2 separate regions of the Homo sapiens genome follow, and region 1 is linked to region 2. Evidence: fine-mapped expression QTL. Tissue or cell type: unexposed skin. Region 2 holds a variant in brackets; the other region holds the start of a gene. All regions are shown on one strand. Distances are from middle to middle.

Region 1 (2,691 bases), 220 kb after region 2:
GCTGTATTTTTATCTTGATTTGTGAACTGTCTCTGCCAACTACTCAAATTTCAAGCTTGTTGAGACATATGTTATCCCTGGAAACCCATCATAAAAATGAAGCATTTTACTGTCCCACTAATTCTGTGTGCTCTGGTCAGTTTCCCCATCTAGATCCAAATTAACCATGTAATTGTCCTTATACTAGTGACTAGTATTTTAAATGGCCTTTTTAGGGAAACCAAAAAGAATAAATTTATTGCTTTTTGTGCAAAAATATAATCTGGTTTGGATTCTCTTTTCTAGCTTTTAAAGCAGTGAGATAGAATGCAGTCGTGGGAAAAGAACTGGATATGGAATTAGGAAGATCTGCATTTGAAATCCAGCTCTGCGACTACTTCTTACGTGTGTGATCTCATAAAGTCACTTAATTTATCTGAGCCTTGGCCTCTTTACCTGTCAGATGGGGACCCTCTGGTGAATCAAATGAGCCATTAACGATCTAATAACATAACATGTTACCTTTATAACTTAATAATTCATTTAAAAAATAATTTGTGTATGTAAGGATGCAAATATAATTAGTAGGAGATAAGAATGAAAGAAAACCTTCAGCCAAAGGCAGAAATATTTTGGTTAAAAAGAAATCAAAGTACTGAAGAACAAGAGCAAGACAAAAATGATTACAACGTCTTCATTTATAGCTCACATGTCACAGCTCAGTATTTATAGGTTTGTTAGTGACAGCCTTCCCAGTATAGCAATGTTAATTACGAAGTAGCTGTCATTGTGTTTCACTGACACAGCACTGTGCACCTGACGGAGGCTGAAAGTACTCATTATTTCCATAGCTGATCATTTAAAGGTCCAAAAATTACACCAATAAATCCGTTTGTGTCTGATTACAATCTCTCTATATCGTACATTGAAATTCCCTGGTGACTTTTTAACAAATCTTAGTGCATTTTATTTCCCAAATATGATTTGTAATAATCAGAGCTTGACTAAAACCTCAGGAAGAGGTGATGGGTGTGAAGCTGAACACAATACTAAATCTATATTCAAATTTTCCAGAGCCTATACTTCCATCGTTATTTAAATGCCATGATCAAAGCAATAGATAGACTAAATATGGAGGGAAAGGAGGGAGGGAGAAACTGAAGAAGGAAGGGAGAGGGAGGGAGAGAAAGAGATCGAAGAGAGGCTTGGGAAAATGTTCAGTGGAAAATCTGTAGAAATGATGTAAGAGAAAGCAAAGGCAGGGATTGGAGTAAGGGGTGTATAACTGAGACTATAAAAACTCAGAGAGAAAACTCACCACCAGGGCTGAGTTTTGGAGAAACTGCAGAGACAGTACTCTAAAGTTAGAATCTCCTGATCTTTCACGAGGTAAGTTATATGTAAAAATTGATAAAGATTTAATGCTTCTTTTAACTATTATTTTTACTTTCACAGACTCTTTAAATGTTTTGATTATATCTTGATTTTGTTAAAATTAGAGTGGTAATATTTCCCTCTCTAAAATGAGTAGAAAATCAAAGATATTTTTGTAATGCAAACTTAAGGTAGAACTAATTGCTTATTCAGATATTTCATATTTATAAGATTGCTTTTCTCTTCCATTTCAAAACAAACAGAAAGTGAATGCAAAATAATAATTCTATACATATATATGTTATTAGCGTTATTTTGCTTTCCTCAAAATTGTGTAATATTAGAAAAATGTTTAATATAAAAGAGTGGTCTAAACAACCTAGGTAAAAAAGAAAGGTTTTTTCCTCATTATTTCTATCAAAACTGGAGCTTAAGAAACATCCCTAAACTAATGAAATTCTATCTCTTATGTTCTTAAAACCTAATGCATCTTCTGTTTTTCTCCTTATATGTCAAATATGCAAATATGATATTAATAACATAGTTGGAGTAGACTTAGAGTATGCCTGTTCTTCAGTATTTGTAGTGCTCTTGCTATTCAATGATTGAATTGAGAGTTAATCTGAAACATACATTTGAGCTCTGTTGGAGAAGAAATTTAAAATTTTATTTCAGGTTTAGTGTGCACTCAGTGAATTCAGTTCTAACAATTCAAATGTTGTTTCTTTGAATAACAGACTCTATAGGTTTAGGAATGTGATTATTATTTGTTTATGAGTTTTCCTTCTAAAAATTTAACATTTTTGAGAATGAATTATGGTAATTTTAATGCCTATATAAGTTATAGAATTGATAGTGTTATACCAAAAACACCAGGGACATTCTGTGTTTTCTCTTACTTTGGTACTACTCTTCAGCACGCTTACAGAACTTTTCTAAGGAGCACTTTCTGTAGATAACAGTTCAGGTCTCCTTCATGTCAGTGAATTTTACTATGGCTTCATTCAAAAATTATTCAGAGTGTTTAAGGTTGACATTTGCTTTCTCCCCCTTATTTCTCAGGATTTTTAACTGATTCTTATATACTGAATAATGAGCAGTAGAGAAGCAGATATCTTCAGTTGACTGGGCACGGGAACCTCAGGGCTATAATTTTAACTTCTTTTACAAATACTCTCAATGATTTGAACATTTGATTAATAAAATTAGATTAATTGAACTTGTCTCAAAAATAAAGAACTCGAAGTAAGAAATCCTAATATATCATTCTAGCTCTGCTATAATCCACCTATACAACTGCAGGCAAGCCTTAAGCACGAATTAAGGCTTGATAATATT
Region 2 (2,691 bases):
TCAGAAGAAGACAGGAAGATGTGGAAAACTTTGGAACTTTCTAGAGATTTGTTGAATGGCTTTGACCAAAATGCTGCTAGTGATATGGAGAATGAAGTCAACACCAAGGTGGTCTCAGATAGAGATGAGAAACTTCTTAAGAACTAAAGCAATGGTGACTCTTGCTATGCATTAGCAAAGAGACTGGTGGCACATTGCCTGTGCCCTAGAGATGTGTGGAATTTTGAACTTGGGAAAGATGATTTAGGATATCTGGTGGAAGAAATTTCTAAGTGGCAAAGTGTTCAATAGGAAGCAGAGCATAAATGTTTGGAAAATTTGCAGCCTGACCATGTGATAGAAAAGAAAAACCTATTTTCTAAGGAGAAATTCAAGCCCTCTGCAGAATTTTGCATAAGTAACAAGACGCTGAATGTTAGTCACCAAGACAATGGGGAAAATGTCTCCAGGACATATCAGAGAACTTCACAGCAGCCTCTCCCATCACAGGTCCAGAGACCTAGGAGGGAAAAAATGGTTTTGTGAGCCTGTCCCAGGGTCCCCCTTACTCTATGCTGCCTCGGGACATAGGGCCCAGTATCCCAGCTGCTTCAGCTCCAGCCATGGCTAAAAGGGGTCAATGTACAGCTCAGACCATTACTTCAGAGGGTGCAAGCCCCCTTGCTTGGCAGCTTCCACGTGGTGCTGTGCCTGTGGGTACACAGAAGACAAGAATTGAGGTTTGGGAACCTCTGCCCAGATTTCAGAGGATGTATAGAAATGCCTGGATATCCAGGCAGAGGTTTGCTGCAGGGACAGAGCCCTCATGGAGAACTCCTGCTGGGGCATTGCAGAAGGGAAATGTGGTGTTGGAGCCCCCACACAGAGTCCCTACTGGGCCACTGCCTAGTAGAGCTGTGAGGAGAGAGCCACCATCCTCCAGACTCCAGAATGGTAGATCCATCAACAGCTTGCACAGTGTGCCTGGAAGAGTCACAGGCACTCAATGTCAGCCCATGAAAGCAGCTGACAGGGGGACTGTACCCTTCAAAGCCACAGGAGTGGAGCTGCCTGAGGTTGTGGGAGCCCACCTCTTGCATCAATGTGACCTGGGTGTGAGGCATGGAGTCAAAGGGGATCATTTTGGAACTTTAAGGTTTAATGACTCCCCAGTTAGATTTTTGGA[C/T]TTGCATGGGGCCTGTAGCCCTTTTGTCTTGGCCAATTTCTCCCATTCAGAATGGGTGTATTTAACCAATGCCTATACCCTCATTGTATCTAGGAAGTAACTAACTTTCTTTTGATTTTACAGGCTCATAGGCAGAAGGAACTTGTCTTGTCTCATCTGAGACTTTGAACTTGGACTTTTGGGCAAATTCTGGAATAAGTTAAGACTATGGGGGACTGTTTGGAAGGCATGATTGTGTTTTGAAATGTGAGAATATGAGATTTGGGAGGGGCCAAGGGTGGAATGATATGGTTTTGCTCTGTGTGCTCACCCAAATCTCACCTTGAATTGTAGTAATTCTTACATGTTAATGGTGAGACCAGGTGGAGATAATTGAATCGTGGGGGTGGTTTCCTTCATGCTGTCCTCCTGATAGTAACTTCTCATGAGATATTATGGTTTTATAAGGGGCTCTCCATCACTTGGCACTCATTCTCTCTCCTGCCACCTTGTGAAGAGTTGTCTTCTACCATGATTGTAAGTTTCCTGAGGCCTCCTCAGCCATGTGGAGCTGTGAGTCAATTAAACCTCTTTTTAAAATAAATTACCCAGTCTCAAATACTTCTTCATAGTAGCATGAGAACAGACGCTTATGGAGTACATGAGGTATTTTGATACAGGCATGCAATGAATAATTAGCACATCAGGGTAAATGAGGTATCCATCATCTCAGGCATTTATACTTTATGCTACAGACAATCCAAGTATGTTCTTTTAGTTATTTTTCAATGTACAATAAATTATTGTTGACTGTAGTCACTCTGTTGTACTGTCAAATACTAGATCCTATTCATTCTATCTGTCTATCCATATTTTCATACCCATTAACTATCCCTTTTTCTTCCCTGCGTACTACCCTTTTCAGCCTCTGGTAACCACCCCAAAAGCAAAATACTACTACTACTACTACTAATAATAATAATAATAATAATAAATTTTATAGGAATGTACAATAAACATTTAATCATTTTTCTTGTGTTGCAAATGTTTGTTTTTTCTTCTTTTGGTACAATTATAAATAGAGTTGTAATAAACATAATCAGTAAGTAAATAAAAGGGAAAAAAACCGCATCTTCATCCCACTAGGCTGGGATTTGTTTATTAATTTTTTTATTTTTAGTGACAGAATCTGTCACTCAGACTAGAGTGCAGTGTTGCAACCATAGCTCGCTCTAACCTTGAACTCCTGAGCATAAGTGATCCTCTTCCCTCAGCCTCCTGACTGGCTAGGACTGCAGGTGTGCATCACTGTGCCTGTCTATTTTTTTTAATTTTTTGTAGAAACAGTGCCTTGATATGATGCCCAGGTTGATTTTGAACTCTTGGCCTCAAGTGATCCTCCTGTCTTGGCATCCCAAAGTGCTGGGATAACAGGCACATGCCACCATGTCCAGCTTAGACCTGGAATTAAATTATCACCTTCCCTTTTACAAATCATGCATATTGGACCAAGTCTTATCAATAATTTTGTCTTTGTTTCCACATCC

Evidence for each region. PIP is the estimated chance that this variant, and not a neighbour inherited with it, causes the effect.
Region 1: OSTN starts here. The variant in region 2 is the best candidate, but not a certain one, in a credible set for the expression of OSTN in unexposed skin (GTEx, PIP 0.68).

Annotation. Positions count from the first base shown.
Region 1 is chr3:191,197,940-191,200,630 of GRCh38, forward strand. OSTN (osteocrin) reads left to right here and starts at 1,302. Exons shown (of 5, transcript NM_198184.2): 1 at 1,302-1,368.
Region 2 is chr3:190,979,303-190,981,993 of GRCh38, forward strand. No RefSeq gene overlaps it. Among named protein-coding and RNA genes, the nearest start is that of SNAR-I, 100 kb to the left of the region's middle. The variant C/T (reference allele first, on the strand shown) is at 1,166.